Regions from separate parts of the Homo sapiens genome. Here region 2 is linked to region 1. The links come from fine-mapping of genetic effects on gene expression. Tissue or cell type: monocytes. Region 1 holds a variant in brackets; the other region holds the start of a gene. All regions are shown on one strand. Distances are from middle to middle.

Region 1 (8,452 bases):
TGTATATTTATTGTATTAACACAGAGTGTCATAAAATAAAATGCTGTTTACTGGATGTTTGTTTGTATAATTTTGAACACTATAATAGCAATTCAGAGACAGACATTGTTAAAGGTTTGATGTATATAGAAATTCCATGTTTGATTTTTTAAAATATGTGTATAAGTCTGTCATGTGCTAAACAAAATAATATGAAAGACCTAGTTAAAAATTCTAACCAATGTAAAATGACCATTTTTCTGTTGCATTAGACCTTTACAGGTAATGGAACATGAGCTTCACCCATATTAAATATTTTGGCCCCTTTAAGGTCAAAATACAGATCATCTAGAAGTTAGATTCAAAATGGAAAACCTATTCATGGCTCAGATTTTTCATTGTGGGTTAAAAATGGGTGTCTCTGTACTAGTATTGTATTTATTCAATTGAACTTGTATTCTGATTTCTATCCTTGCTACCTATTGCTGTTTTATGTACTGATGAAAGTACCTATTTGTGTATATTGGATTTTTCACTTGGTTAGCTAAAGAAGATGTAAAAATATCTAAAATAATGTTCATGGTGAATCTTATTTTGAGAAATACATGTTAAAAAAGGAACAGTATTCTTTATTTTCTGGGTGTTATATTTAAAAAAGCAAGTTTGGATTTTTACACCTAATTTACTAGGAAAATATTTTATTCTGTAATTCATGTTAAGATTATGTATGGTTTGCATTTTAAGGGGATTTATGTTAGGTTAATTAGTTGTTTCTGTAAATCATTTGTAATAGCATAGTGCTTTTTACTCATTGCTGTATCTTTTTCTGAAAACACTGTTGTTAACATCTAATTCAGTATCCTTATTGGTACAAATCTGTGTTTGGCATGACTGTTTATATACAGAATTTGTTACATTTTGAGCATTTTTTCCCCTGCTTATGTATACCTTAGAGTTACCATGGCTGTCATATACCATTTCACTATATCTCCTTTCAGTTTTTCCTTAAGGAAAATGTTTAGAGGAATTTGTTCATTTCATGTGATTAAGCCCTTTAGAGATGAAATAAGATTGGTTAATTTTAAAAAAATTGAGGATGGTTAAAAAATAGAAAACACCTTACTTTGATACATTTTAAAGTACAATAGTATACATTTATTTAGAGTAGACTAATGTGTTTAAAACATGAGTTGTTTTAAATACTTTTTTATTGAGCTAAAAAGTTTTATCTCACATATTAAGTATTACAGAAAGTGAAGTATTTTGGCTAGAATTTTAGGGCATATTTTATAAAGCAGCATGCCTGTAATATTGGTGGGTATTTTTAAACTTTAGGACTTTATCACAGTATGTAGAGAGCTAGAAATAAATCTAGAAACTTTCTAAGCCAGGTATTGCCACTAACCTGTCTTATATAAGCAGATACCTCTTATTTGAAGATTGTAGGAAAATAGAGAAAGACTGTTCTCCAGTTTTCTCACCCCCGCTGTGGGTTTTATATTTACAATTTAACTTTGGGGTTTGGGTAAGACAAACATTTAATGTATAGGATTTTGGCCAGGTGTGGTGGCTCACGCCTGTAATCCCAGCACTTTGGGAGGCCAAGGTGGGCGGATCACGAGGTCAGGAGATCGAAACCATCCTGGCTAACATGGTGAAACCCCATCTCTACTAAAAATACAAAAAAAAAATTAGCTGAGCATGGTGGCGGGCGCCTGTAGTCCCAGCTACTTGGGAGGCTGAGGCAGGAGAATGACGTGAACCTGGGAGGCGGAGCTTGCAGTGAGCCGAGATCTCTCCACTGCACTCCAGCCTGGGCGACAGAGCGAGACTCCATCTCAAGAAAAAAAAAAAAGAATTTTCATTAGTGCTGGCCGTGTTTCAAATGGCAAGGGAACATGGGAACTATCATGTGGCAATGTAGTGAGTGTTAAACTTTGTGTTTGTCCAAATCCTGATTTATTTTTCAGTTCATATCTTTCTGGGCTTGACATGGCTGATGGTGTAGCTGAAACCCTCCTAACACTAAAAGCCATTTAATCTTTTCTGTAATAGGAGCAGAAAATAGTTAATCATCCACCTAGTAATATAAGATTACTGTGAATATTATCTTCTATACATTAAAACAGTTCTAGTTTGTAGAATAATACCATACAAGTTTTATTTTTAAATTCTAGTTATTTTCAGTGCTTACTTAAATGTAATTCTAGAATTCCTCCACAACTTTTAATATTTTGTATGCCAGTGATTCTCAAGATAAATCATGATTGTAGTAGTTGTTACTGTTGGCAGTTTGTAGTAGTATTCAGGTATTTTGGGGATGGGGGAAAACACCAAAAATCAGTGTCTTTTATCTGGTGATCACTGTGGTATCTACAGTATTCTAGTCTCCTGCACAAAAACTGAACCCACTGGGCCTATGCATCCCTCACACTTTTTTTCTAGTATAAAAGCAATACATAATGTGTTGTAGAACAATTAAAAATTCAGAAAGTGATACATGAGAAAATAAAAATAAATCCTTAATTCTGTCATCTTGGGGTACCTCTGCTAATATTTTATTGTCTTCCATTCTTTTTCTATGCATATGTGTTTTGTTTAGTTAAGAGATATAAGCAATATGGATTTTTAAAAACCTTATTTTCCCCTCACTTAGCTTTATGTCATAATGGCGCAATAGTTTAGTTTTTTAAATTAACTTTTTTAATTTATAAAATTAATGTATATTTCAGTATAAATTATAGAAAATATAAGCAAAAGAAATAACCAAAATTCTCATAATTTTACATCCATGAATAACTTCTATTAAAATCTGGTTTATATCTTTCTATTTTTCTAGGAAGACAACTTCCTAATATTAAAAATGAGATGACCCCGTACATCCTTGTACATCCTTTAGGGATGTCTACCTACTCCTCAAAAGCCCCACTTCTTTGGGTCCTTAAAGTCCACATTGGTACTGGATGTCATCTGGCCATAGTGGACTCATTCCTGGCTTATCAGTTTTTTATTCTGAATGTAGATATGTCTAGAACTCTACTGTTCCAGAATTGGAACATAAGAGGTAGCCATTTTCTGCCATGAGGAAGGAATCACCAAGAAAGCTGGTCTGCAATGAAAATGAAGAATGAAACAGACATAACAGGAGATGTAAAATGAATGACATAGAAAAGATCTTAGTGGCTTTCCTTTTCCTTTATGGAGCCCTACTTCTCACCCTTATCCCATTATCCTCATAATCTTACCGCTTTTTCTCCCTCAACTATCTTGAATTGGTTTCTTATTACTTTTAACTGGAGGATCTTAACACAACAGTTTATCTTATTTCAGTTATGATATAAATATGTATTGAAGATTTTAATATCTCTGAATATATTTCTGTAACATTTAGTATAGCTATATAGCTAACATCATATGTATGTATCATAAAGTCTTGTTATTCCTTTAGGTTCTGATTTTCAGGGTTTTAAAGTTATAAATAATTTATCAAGGAATATATTGTTGCTAAATTTGGGGACTCGGGCTTTTGTTTTTTCTTTAGGACAGATTGCTGAGTTAAAGGGTATTATGCATAGTTTTTAAAGCACCTTTCATGTGCTTTGCCAAGTTGCTCTCCAGAAAAATTTTATCCATATGTAACTCCATCAGCAATGTACGGAAAGGCCTCTTTCTTCACATCCTTGGCCAGCATTGGATGTTCCTTTTCTAAAAAGTCTTTTATCCCAATAGATTTTGACAAATCAGGTTTCTTTTCTGAGCATTCTGGTTTCACATGGCTTATGTGCTCACCCAATGCTACCGGTTTGTTTGTTTGTTTTTGTTTTTGCTAAATAGGAGTAACTGAGTACCCTGCATCCACTGAGAAATCTTCTGCTTCCTGAAAGCTCTAAGGTAAAGATAATTAGCTGAATGCTCTGTTATAACAGGATGGAAAAAGAAATGGTGGCCTCAGGTAGCCAATCCACTGAGTCTCTCCAGGTAAAATTACACTGGTTTCGACAAGTTATGTTACCTTTCATAGAATGTAATTTTAAAATGATATTAGTCTGGGTGGGTAGTATTTTCTTAGTTTTTTTCTAATAATAGCTTATTGTGGGCTTAATTATATACCAGTGTTCTGTACTAAATGCTTTATATACATCACTTAATTTTCATACCAAACTTGTGATATAATTTCTGTTGTTGGCTCTGTTTTTGTAGAGTTCTAGGAAATTACCCCAAGGTCACTCAGTGAGTGGTGGTGGTGAAGGGCTGGAGAGGGATGATG[A/G]GAACAGGCAGGTCCCCTGACTCCTGCCAAGCGTGGCTGCCCCACCATGCCGCCTCGTTCCAGTTGTCTTCCCTTTCATCCTTCCACATTTCCAGTCATTCATGTCCATCCTTTAGGGACAACAGATACTAGAAAAAAAATCAACAAAAAAAATTTTTACATATATTTTTGAAGTCTCCAGACCAAATGCTAACACCTGCCACCTAAAGGTGAGTACCTGCTGCCCATTCTTCAGCAGTGTAAATTTACTAAAGGGTCTTTGGCGTTTGTGTGTTTGGAGAAACTTTAGTCGAGGACAAATCCTTATTATTAGGTTAAATATGCTTCTTATGTGATTATAATAGTTGCTTACCCTGAATGAGAGATTATTTATACTAAGAAAACAATAAAAACTGTCAAAGCCTATCATTTATTTTCCCACTGTCACATACTTAATGAATTTCTTGTGTCTGTTTTCAGGATTGAGCTAAATCATGATTGATAAATTGAGACATATGGTGTCATCTTCAAAATTATGAAAAATCACTAGGTGTTTTCTCTGAAAGGGAGGAAGAAGCAGTGTTTTCATCAGTTGTGATGGTGAGGCCCTTTTGGAGTTTTATTTGGAAGTTATTCTAAGTGTTTACAATGTAGAGATATTGCCCAGGAGTTTGCATTGGCTGCCTTCCCACCTTGTGCATTCCAGGTAGAAGGAAACAACATAGCAGTTTGAGTGAGTTGCCTTTGGTGTCAAACATGTATCTGAGCTTTGGCTTTTCCGCTTATTAGCTTTCTAACCTGGGATACATTATTTAACCTCAGTTATTTAAGTGACAGTTATCTGTAAAACAATAGTAACAGTTTCTATCTCATAGGATTTTGATGAATAAATGAATTTTATGAAGTATTTAGCATAGTATCTGCCCATAGAAGTTGCACAATAACTAAGGACACTTACCATCTCTCAGGTGTATTGATGACTCCCAAATCTCTCTCTCTCCTTAGTATAGTCCTAGCTGCACACAGGACTTCTACATTGGCAGCCTAAGCTGAACCTCCTCACCTTCATTGTCCCTGCTTCTTCTGGAGTCTTCATCTTGGTGATCACATCACCTTCCACTCAGTGTCTACGCTAAATACCTGGCTGTCATCCTAGACTCTTTCCTCTCCTTCCTCTCCACTTCTGATCAGTCACCTGCCCATTCTTTTTCCCTAACATAGAATTCATCCCATTGACTGTCCTTTACCATCACTGCCTTAATTCAGGCTTTCGTCTCTTGTGAATAAAATCATAGTGGTTTCCCCTAAACATAGGCATTTGGACTGCCTACCTGTAGGTGTTCAATTTTTCAGGATGTTTGGCTAGAAAAAGCTAAAAAGCTGCTAATAGCAATGTGTTACTTGATTGACTTTTCTTTCCCATGTGGTTTTGGTTTCACTACTTCCTCTTTTTGTGTGCTTTTATCTGTGTCCTGTGTACCTTAGTAAAATTGGCAGTTCTTGTCTGCAAGACTTATCTTGCACAACTGTTCAGGGTAAGGAGAGGAAGTTGCAAGGAAGAAGATAGTAGTAGGGGGAGCAGTGGGATGGCTCTGCCAAATGACTCAGCTGCTAGTGAGGGCCTCTGAAATAAAGTTATTGGTTCTTACTGCTTTGAAGAGTAAAGTTTGCTTTGATACCCTACCCTTCATTGTTTGAGAGTTGAAAAAGATTGTTTGAAACTACTGAAATAATATCCACATAAAATATCCACGTTAGTAAGGACCGTTGTAAGTGGTTGTTTGGTTAAGCAAAAACTTTAAGGGGGTGTAGGTGTAATTTGAATGCAGCATGTTCCAGAAAGATCAGTGTGGAAAGTGGACCTAGTAGCAGAATTGCTAGATAACAACTAAGGATGGGAAGCGGGGGAAGCACATGGGAGGATTCCCCAGCTTCTGCTAAAATTCAACCAGGGTCCATTCTCTGTGTGGATTAACTTTTGGGGAATACAATAACAGCTGAAAAAGCAATGGAAATTTTCTAATTTTTCTTGGGTTATTCAAATCATGATTATTTGGAAAACTGTGTGTGGTTTTTTTAAACTGATATGGGTAACTTTGTCAGCTTTTATTAGAAACCAAAACATGAATCTAATTTCAACTGTCATAGGCCCTAGATCAGGGGAAGAAACTGCCTTTTTTTGGTATGAAATAATAAATGCTTCATGGGATACAGAGAGTTGAGAGTTGAGAAGGGCATTTAGTGTCATTCTTGAGTTTATAAATTAGAATTCCACCTCTTCTGGATGAGGGTTTATATGGCCAGGATTACCTTCAGGAAACATGGATGTGGAATGGCACCGTATCATTGGCTTTTATTTTTAGGGATGTTGTTGGAAGAGGAGGATGTGTCTTTCAGTTAACTTTTCCCCTTGTCATTGTTACATATTTATGTTTGAAAATCCCTTTTTAATACTTCGGAGCATTTTCATATTTCATAGCTTTACTTTAAAATATATGTTTACAATACTTGAGATGTTTTTTCCTATTTACAATTGTGTTGATGCTTCTTCAAGGAAGAAATACATACTTGACGTTAAAGAAAGATAGCCCAGGGTAGGGACATATATGTTACTAGTGAATGGGATAGTTTAAAATACCTGAATATCTTTTTTCCATTCATCAATATTACATGTAAGTTAGTGTTTAAAATAAATGTTGACTGATTGATAGGTATTTTCTTGATCAGATTATACACATCATATTGAAGCCAGTATACTCAGACTTGAAAGAATAAGAATGAATTGCAAAATCTGGTTTAATTAAGATCTGGGGAGGGGAGCACATAGTGAAAATACATATGCACAGGAACCAAATCAATGCTAGACAATGTATTAGTTTACAATATAATAGGATAACTACAAGTTTGAAGGCTCAAATTGAGTCCATCAGCTGTAAATACAATTTTATATTTGGCTCAAGTGGCTGTTGAATATCAAGTGGTGCCGAGTCCCTCCAGAGCACCTACTGACCCCCTCAGCCTTGGAAGGAGTTTCACCACAGTCTCAGAAGAAATCCCAGTCGTGCCTTTAACTCTTTTGGCCCTTGGGAGTCATTGCAACCCCAATACAAATGCCGGCCCAGGGATTTCCAGTGGCCACAAGTTATTGCACAGAGAGGTCTGTTCTAAGCCAGACTCTTACAGCTAAGGAGGTGTGAGATTAGCCCTTAAATACTGGTCTAGCATTAGCATGGTCTATAAAAGCATGTTAAGAAATAGCTCCTCAGTGATTATGTACCAGCTACTAGTTATCCTACTAAGAGAAAAGGCAACATGGCAGCTTCACATTTCACATGAAAGACTAGCATTAACTGGGCCTGGCGTGCGGGCTTAACTTTGACATAACACTAGCGATTATTTTAGACCCAGGAAAAAATGATTTCATACCAGTCTTTTCTTCACATAAGATTTGTGTAGCATTAAAATTATGGGTTACTGAATAAGCCATGAAGGCAAAAATGTGGAACTCTCCTTGCCAAAACAGAAACAAACATCCCTGTTTTGACTCCTGTCCAGTTTCCAAAACAAAACAACAAAACATACATACACCTTTGTTATTGCACATCTTTCACACAAACTTGTGTATGTATAATATACATATATATTTTTAAATATGCTACACATAAAAAAAGACTATGGCACTTTACAGAATATATGTTTAACAAAGATCATTACACCACAGATGTTTGAAAACTATACAAAAACCCTTATACAATTAATGCAACATTGTTTGAATTATTAGCACACAGGTTTAAAGAATCCACAGAATCCAAGGCAAATATTTCTGCCTCAGAGTTCATTGAGAAGCGCAGCCCATCCCATCCCGTCATGAGACTTTCTTTAAGCCAATTTCAGGCAAAATAAATAAGACTTTCCTGGTAGTAATAATGGTCCTATTTATTAGAAAAATAAGTGTGAGCCAACAATCTATTTTTAACATTTCTTTCTAGCATATTCCTCATACCCAGTGGTTTTTAAACAGCTGTGTGGAAGAGCATGGTTTAGACTAGCATGATTTTAGATGGTCCTTTCATCCCAAGCCTGGCTAATGGATTCAAGGTTTAAAAGTCCCAACATTACCTTTTTACTATTTACTAAGTCAGTGTTTAGGTAGTTTTTAGTGGTTTGGGGTTCTGTGTGTGTGCATGCCTGTGCTTTTGTCTTCTGTTGCATTCAGATTAATAACAT
Region 2 (8,452 bases), 120 kb before region 1:
CTTTCCAGCTTCAGAAGCCACTCACATGCCCTAGTTTAAGAACCCCTTCCTCAATCATCAAAGTCAGCAACTCTTCTGCTTTCCTCTTCCACTTTCAAGGACTCGTGATTACATTGGGCCTACTTGAATAATCCAGGATAATCCCCTCCTCTCAAGGTTCTTAACCTTAATTACACCTGCAAAGTCTCTTTTGCCATGTAAGGTAACATATTTACAGATTCTAGGGATTATAGCATGGACATCTTTGGGGGAGGGGAGGATTATTTGGCCTACCACACAATGCCTGCACCTCCTCTGTTATTGCCTGAAAATGTAGCCAGTGGCAGAATAGGGAGCCAGATAGGCTGGTGCTGGGGCGTCGAGGGTATCAGCAGACACAGCAGCAAATCTGGAGACTAGACCCACTGTAAGAGATGATGGATTTCAGTTCTAATCCATCAGTGAACCCAGAATCCAGTGAACCTTTTGAGGCAAGAAACGTAAATATCTAACTTGGCATTTTCCTAGCATTCCCCAGCTATAAGCTAGGCAGTTTAGAAAACAAGGAATTCAGACTCTAGACCCTGCTCAATAGGTTCACCAATTAAAAGTGTCAGTCTGAGGAGAAGCAGCATGATGATGATGGGAGGCACACTCTGAGGGGAAAAGAAACAGGGTTAGGGAGGAGTGAGCCACTGTCCCAGATTAATAGAACGTTAGAACTGTCCAAAGGATCTGAGATATCCTTTAGCCATGTTCTAGGCCTTTTAGGAAGTTTTCTGGAGCAGGCCTTACGCTTTATACCTGGTTTACTGCTTTATCCACAACATCACTGTTTTAGTTGCTCAAGAAATACTTGAATGATGTACTAGAGTAGAAACTCTGGTTAGAAAGGTGAGTTGATATGTTCAAGATCAAACGGTTGGTTTGCAGGAGAGAGGGCATAGACTGGTTTTGAGTCTTTGTTCTACCAAATTTAGGAGGTACCTTCCGTAAAATGAACTCCTGCACCAAATGAGGCTTCTTGTATAATTTCTCTCTACCTTGCACATAGCATTTCTTCCTTCTATATGAAATTATTCATATAGAATAATTCTATTCATTTAATAACCTATTTATTTAATGTCTAAAACATTAGTCAAGAGACCTGAGTTCTGTTCCCTGTTTCCCCATTCACTTCCTTGGTGTCTGAGACAAATTACTTAACCTGTCCAAACTCCAGTTTCTTCAATCATGAGAGAGGCTGAGGTTCCTTCTCAGCTCGCACATTCTATAATTCTAAATTTCATGGAGGCTAATGAATTAATAAGCTCCCTGCTATGGTTTGGGTATGGCTTTGGACCTGCAAAGTGTCATGTTGAAATATGAGTCCCAGTGCTGGAGTTGGGGCCTGGTGGGAGGTGTTTGGGCCATATGGATGAATTCCTCACAAATGGCTTGGTGCTATTCTCCTGAGAGTGAGTTCTCATCCTTGAGAACAGGTTGTTCAAAAGAACCGAGAGTCAGCTTCTCCCTTTCTCTCCCCTGATGCCCCATCTTGCACTGTAGCCATGTGATCTCTGCACGAAGTCTCCCCTTTGCCTTCTGCATGAGTGGAAGCAGCATAAGGCCCTCATCTGAAGCTGACAGCCTGCAGAACCATGAGTCAAATAATCCTCTTTTCTTCATACATTATCCAGCCTCCCGTATTCCTTTATAGCAACACAAACAGATTAAGACCCTCACCCATGGACCATATGTCTGCATGTCCTCATATCAGTGTTCCCAAAAGTGTGATCAGCCACCACCAAAGTCATCTCAGGTTGGCCAAGCATGGTGGCTCATGCCTGTAATCCCAGCACTTTGGGAGGCAGAGGTGGCCTGGATCATTTGAGGTCAGGAGTTCGAGACCAGCCTGGCAAACAAAGTGAAACCCTATCTCTACTAAAAATACAAAAATTAGCCGGGTGTGGTGGTGCATGCCTGTAATCCCAGCTACTCGGGAGGCTGAGGCAGGAGAATTGCTTAAACAAGGGAGGTGGAGGTTGTAGTGAGCCACGATTGTGCCACTGCACTCCAGCCTGGGTGACAGAGTAAGACTCGGTCTCAAAAAAAAAAAAAAAAAAAATCACCTGAGATCCTTTACATATGCTGATTTTTGCAGTTGTTAAGAATAATGAATCAGATATATGGTTTCCATTAGGCCATGCTTCCCTTTTCACTCTATAGGCATGCTACACATAAAAAGTGATAATATTTATGTGGCATACTAGGGGAAGAAACCTTAAGACTGTCTCTCTGACAATGCACATCTTGCTGAGAAATTCTGCCATACGTATTGAGAAAAACAGCTGCAGAAAAATATACATATGATCTAACTTTTTCAAGACAATGCCAAAGCTCAGTATTAGAGTGTATGCATATCTGCATGAATATGTATTGTTTTTATACAATTACATGTTATTTTATGTAAGTGCAGATATACACTATTACAAGAATATTTAAAGAAATGTACTAGGTTGTTAATGTAGGGGAAGAGAAGAGGGAATACACGGAATAAAAATTTTTGTAAGTGAAAAATTCAATATGTATGTCATGACTCCATTTATACATTTATGTAAAATAATGTATAGAGATGTAAAAAATAAAAAATGCAGATCCAGAGCCCCTACCTCAGATCCTTTCAAGCGTAATCTTAGCAATAGGAGGTATGGTAAGGTGGGTGTCTGCATCTTCAACAGGTATTCCAAATGATTCTATAACAGTAAAGTCTGTAAACCTTTGCATTAGGTGCAAATATCATTAGCTGTAAACAGAACATAGTTGGAAATTTCCATCCTGCAATGCGGGCTCAGCTGACCCTCATTGTCTTGGAACATAGTAGATGCATAATAAATAGTGCAGATTATTTTGAGTCATTTGGAGGACAGGTGGAGGGAGTGAGGGCAAAAGTGGTGAGAGAAGCAGATGAGCTGGGCAAGGACATGCTTGCTCAGGAGAAGGGAGGCAAAGCGTATAAGAACATACTGAGCCTCCTTGCCACTTTCGACGTTCAACCAATATTTGTTAGGCACTAAATATACATGCAGGACACTTTTCTGTATGTTGTTTCATTTAATTCTTAAATAATCCTTTACAGACTCAGAGAGGTGAAGAGAGTAGCACAGGTAGTATCAGAATTGGGATTCAAACCTGACACATACACTGAGCACTAAGTTAAAACCGGGCACTGGGCAGCTGCTGAGGATGCGATGGTGAGTACAACAGACTGCTTGCTCTTTTTGATATCTAGAATCGTACAGCTCTGCTGTGCTCATCCTTGTCTGTTGTCATTTACTAGTTGACATCTTCGTTGACTACCTAGAAGCAGCTGCTTCGACATCTATCCCAACCTGAATCCCGTCAAAGGGAGATTACAACAAATGTGCTTTTTGTCTATCATCTCTAGCTAGTGTTTCACAGTGGGGGGAGTATCATTTCCTGGGTGACTTTGCATAGAGCAAGCTCCCCAAAGGCCAAGGAATACTCAATCTAGATTCTTCCAATCCTCCGGTACCCACCAAGTCAAAAGAATTCTGGCTCCCTGTAGCTTCATCTAAGTGCTTTTCTGTTAGAGGAGAAAAGTGAGGAAAGCGATGCTCTTTCAATAAGTTCGGCAGGGTGGGGCAAGGAATGGTACAAATTGATTTTTTTTTTTTCTTGAGACAGAGTCTCGCTCTGTCTCCCAGGCTGGAGTGCAGTGGCCCGGTCTCGGCTCACTGCGACCTCCACCTCCCGGATTCAAGCGATTCTCCTGCCTTAGCCTCCAGAGTAGCTGGGACTACAGGCGTACGCCACCACTCCCGGCTAATTTCTGTATTTTTAGTAGAGACGGGGGTTTCACCATATTGGCCAGGCTGGTTTCGAACTCATGACCTTGTGATTCGCCCGCCTCGGCCTCCCAAAGTGTTGGGATTACAGGCGTAAGCCACCGCGCCCGGCCGGTACAAATTAATTTAACACATCTTTTGATAATCTCATCCTTGGTGTTGGAAAAGACGGGAAAATCCAAAAGTGTCTATTTTGTGCCCAAATGCTCAAGTTAATACTCGAGGGCCTTGATCTCTGGCCTCTTGCCATCCCTCTCCCCATTATTTCTGAAGAAGTAGCCATTTTGCAGATTCCGGAGGATGGGAGCCACGGCCGGCCCCTGGTACTGAATCTCATCTCCTTCTCAAGGCTCCTTGGATCAAGTTGGGACCGGCAGCGCCAAGGCTGCTCTCCGTGATTTAGCAGCAACCTAGAGTCAGAGAGACCGGAAGATGGGAGGCCGGGATTCTCAGGTGGGGTCAGGGGTATGCAAAAATCCTTAGCAGCGGCCGCGCCCCCGCCCCGGGGAGGTAATTTGCGGAGGGCGGTGCAGTAGCCTCTCCAGTGCCCGCGTCCCACGGTCTAACGGCACTGCTCCCGGGGTGCGCGGCCCACGACTCAGGCTGCCTCCCCCAACCTGACAAGTGTGCGTCCTTACCACAAAATGCCACCACTTCCCTAAGTGACGCTGGGCCCCGAGGACCTGATTTGAAATCGGTGTTCAGAAGACCGAGCCCGGCTGGACGCAGCTGGCCTCCGGCTGAGAGCGGAGGGGAAGGGTTCCATACTCTCCGAGGATCCCGCGGGCTCGTGGCGTGTGGAACGCTTTTCATCGCTTTCAGTTCCCGTTTCCTTCGCCCCGACTGCCTACTCGGTCGCAGCTAAAGCCCGGAGCGTGGGATCCGGGCCCGGAGGAACGGGATGGCGAACGCGAGCTGCGCCGCGGCCAGGAGCCCGCCGCACCGGGCATGCTCAGTGGCGCGGCCGGCTGGGTGGCCCGCGAGCTGCACCCGGATCTGCTCGGCGGCGGCGACGTGAGCGCGCAGGGGGGCGGCGGCCTCGCCTCGTCTCTCTCTCTGCGCCTGGGTCGGGTGGGTGACGCCGAGAGCCAGAGAGATGTCGGATTTCGACAGTAACCCGTTTGCCGACCCGGATCTCAACAATCCCTTCAAGGTGAGCTTCGGCCCCAGCATCTCCTGCCGCCGCGACGCGTCGTTGTTTGTGAAAACGGACGAGTTCCTTCGCGCCCACTGCGTCTGCCCCTCGGCTCCCCTTAGCAGCCCAGAGAGGGGCGCGGGGCCGCCGTCCTCCATTTGGGGTCGCGCCCCGGCCCCGTGTCACTCCTTTGGGTTTTGGGGCTTGGGGGTGGAACCTCCTCAGCTCGTGCCCGGTCGCCCTTCCACACGTCCCCGACTGGTGAGGGTCGTGTCTGCAGCCGGGACTGGGCCCGCGCGCCCGGAGGGGTCCTGGCCCGCCTCTCAGGAGAGAAAGCCGAGGGCAGGTAGAGTCGCCCCTTGCCAAGCAAGTGTGGCTGGCAGGGCCGGGAGTCGGCGGAGGGGGGCCCGCCCTGGGGTGGGGTTGTCATGGGGACCCGAGGTGGCGGCGGCGGAGAGCTGCGTGGGGTGATGGCAGAGGTGTGGAGGAGGAGAGAGGTGAGGGCACCGAGTATGCTGCAATTAAAAAAAAAAAGGTTATGTTTTTATTTTTTAAACTTGTGTTGCACCCAAATACCACCAGTGGCGCTGCCATCCCCCCTCTTTCTGTTAGGTTGAGGTTGAGGTTATTGATACCAAAGCAAAACTTAAAAATAAACATATCTGGAAAACAATAGTGCACGTGGACGACCTCTTCCCTACCCAGCTGCTTCTAGCAAGGTAAACGATGGGATATTTTCCAAGCTCCTAGTGCGTCACCGGTTCTCTGGGCTATGTGAGGATACCATTTCCTACTTGAGCTGCTTTTCTTCTTGGAGTCGACCTTATCAACCCCGGCTTCGGAAGGGCTTGGCACAGAATCCTGCAAAGGAAGGCGGCTGAGATATTCATCGTCTGCGTTTAAATGAATGCAACATCTAAATAACTCTCTCTTTGAAAGTATTCTGAATTTCCTAATGAGTGTAACTGTTAGCACGTGTAATTTGTTTCCAACTGTTGGTTGAAGTTGTTTCTCAATCCCCCCGGCCATGTGCAGTAGTAACTTTAATTTGCAGTCACACAGAATAAAACAGGAACTCTAATTTGTGGTCACACAAGTGTCACTTCTGGCTTGTTGAGTTTACATCTTTTTACTCCTGGTTTTATCTTTCATTAAGAATCCTGGAAGAGGAAAACTATTTCTGCTCTGATTATTAAATGCCTGATAATTCCAAGGAGGATTATTTTAATGAAATGACCCTGATTATTATTGACAACTCGACTCACTTTGTAGCAGTGTAGAATTAGACTCAGTCACTGTTTCATTGTCCCTAATGTCACTTAAAATTCAGTACAACTGGCCTGTACCTTTCAGTGACATGGTTGCATTTTAAGACTTTTTTTTTTTTCCTGGCAGTTTTGTTTCAATTAGTATTGGACTTGCTTCCATGTTGTGGAAAATCAGGTAGTTCTTAAATGGTAGACTTTCTAAAGAGACCGTTCATAAATTGTTAAATGGGTGTTATTTTAAAATATTTTGAAGATAAAACATCAAGAACCTTTTAGCCTTTCCTAATTCAGATAATTCACTGACGCTGTTTATTCAGCATCTGACGATTTGGCAGTGTATTTTCTACTTGGTCATTCCATTTCATGGTTCATTTCATATTAACTGGCTCTCTTGTTAGGGCAAAACATTGTCTTCATCTTAGCCCAGACTGTCCTTTTGTGACATCTGATATTGCCATGACACTTTTCCTCTTCTGACATTCATAAAGTTGCTGTAGTAATTCTAAACCCAGGAGTTGTTTTAAATATTCATTGTGGCATAACGTTATAAATCTTTTTTGTTCTTTTATAAGTGGATGTATCCAGGACAATGATTATTCAAGTTTGTAAAATGCATCAGGGACAGATCATTTAGGTCTAAAGTAGACTTGGTTGTACACATATTTCTGCTTATGATCTTTCTCTGTTTTTGGTGACTGTTATAGCACTGTCAGTGTATCTGACCCTTTATTTTTCCATTTATGTTCACCTGCCCCTCCTCCTCACAAAGTATAGTTTTATATCTATATTTTGTCTTTTTACTTCTGCTTATATTTATGTAAAAGTGATTTTTGAAATAACATTTCTGATACTCTACTTAAATCTGAAATGTTTCTAGAATCATTTGAGTTACTTTATGATCATTTTTCTTTTTTTACTTTTTTTTTTTTTTTGAGACGGAGTCTTGCACTGTTGCCCCGGCTGGAGTGCAATGGCGTGATCTCAACTCACCACAACCTCTGCCTCCCGTGTTCAAGTGATTCTCCTGCCTCAACCTCCCTAGTAGCTGGTATTACAGGTGCCCGCCACCACACCCGGCTAATTCTTTGTATTTTTAGTAGAGACAGGGTTTCATTGTATTGGCCAGGCTGGTCTTGAACTCCTGACCTCGTGATCCACCTGCCTCAGTCTCCCAAAGTGCTGGGATTACGGGCGGGAGCCACTGCGTTCAAGCAGATCGTTTTTCTTTCTTTCTTTCTTTCTTTTTTTTTTTGAGACGGAGTCTCCCTCTGTCGCCCAGGTTGGAGTGCAGTGGCGCGATCTCTGCTCACTGCAAGCGCTGCCTCCTGGGTTCACACCATTCTCCTGCCTCAGACTCCCAAGTAGCTGGGACTACAGGCGCCCGCCACCACCGGCTGATTTTTTGTATTTTTAGTAGAGACGGGGTTTCACCGTGTTAGCCAGGATGGTCTCGATCTCCTGACCTCGTGATCTACCCGCCTTGGCCTCCCAAAGTGCTGGGATTACAGGCGTGAACCACTGGGCCCGACCCATTTTTCAAATCTGTTTTTATTTGCAGTATTTGAAGATAAAGCTCTTATTTTCAAGTATATGATATTTCGCATTTGGTAACTATGCTAATTTCTTTTTCATTAAATCCTATTTGTTTTCCATTGCCTTTTTCATTTTTTAGCATTTCTTTTCCTTCACTTTTATGTTAGGAATACTTCTGCAAGCATCTTCGTTTGTGCCGTATCATGAAAGTAGTTTGAGTCTATTCTCCTTATATAATATAACCATAGTGGTTTACTTGATTTTATTGGTTCTTGTAAGGCTATTTGCTGGATTCAGTTCATTTTTTTTTGTTGAGCCCCTGCTTTATATTCTAGTGGTTTTCCTAGGCTTAGTGAATGGTTTTATGAAATTTGAATGGCTTTCATTGCGCATCAAGAAACTTGGAATAACTGGAAATCTGTAGTGATCGAAAAGAAAATAGGTGATTAATTATATAGAAGTTTCTGAGGATCCACTCTTGAGCTGTTAAAATGGGGTTTTAAAGCTATAGAGGGAAAAATATTTTCTGTATAGTCAACATGTAATTATTGAAGAATTGCTGTATGTCCTTTGTTTTCTGTTGAGTTTATTCATTCAACAAATACTGAAGAAGTGTCTCTGTCCTTATGGCTATTAGTCTAACAGTGAGACAAATATGCTTGGAAAATGAATGAAAGGGGAGAGTTTAA

Direction of the effects. Positions count from the first base shown, and alleles are read on the strand shown. Sizes are in standard deviations (SD) of each study's normalised expression.
For the expression in monocytes of the gene that starts at base 4,869 in region 2, allele A in region 1 goes with a higher level than allele G (large effect, 0.86 SD a copy in Quach 2016).

Evidence for each region. PIP is the estimated chance that this variant, and not a neighbour inherited with it, causes the effect.
Region 2: SCAMP1 starts here. The variant in region 1 is fine-mapped to the expression of SCAMP1 in monocytes (Quach 2016, PIP 0.95).

What each region holds. Positions count from the first base shown.
Region 1 is chr5:78,478,227-78,486,678 of GRCh38, forward strand. It overlaps SCAMP1 (secretory carrier membrane protein 1), which reads left to right. Exons shown (of 9, transcript NM_004866.6): 9 at 1-2,513. LHFPL2 (LHFPL tetraspan subfamily member 2) reads right to left here. Exons shown (of 5, transcript NM_005779.3): 5 at 7,004-8,452. Among named protein-coding and RNA genes, the nearest start is that of SCAMP1, 120 kb to the left of the region's middle. The variant A/G (reference allele first, on the strand shown) is at 4,247.
Region 2 is chr5:78,355,749-78,364,200 of GRCh38, forward strand. It overlaps SCAMP1 (secretory carrier membrane protein 1), which reads left to right and starts at 4,869. Exons shown (of 9, transcript NM_004866.6): 1 at 4,869-4,980. The coding sequence starts at 4,924. It overlaps SCAMP1-AS1 (SCAMP1 antisense RNA 1), which reads right to left and starts at 4,793. Exons shown (of 2, transcript NR_105014.1): 1 at 4,466-4,793; 2 at 3,016-4,237. RefSeq lists enhancers at 3,921-4,517, 4,319-4,408, 4,439-4,598, 4,518-5,114, 5,509-5,628 and silencers at 4,779-4,868, 5,299-5,418.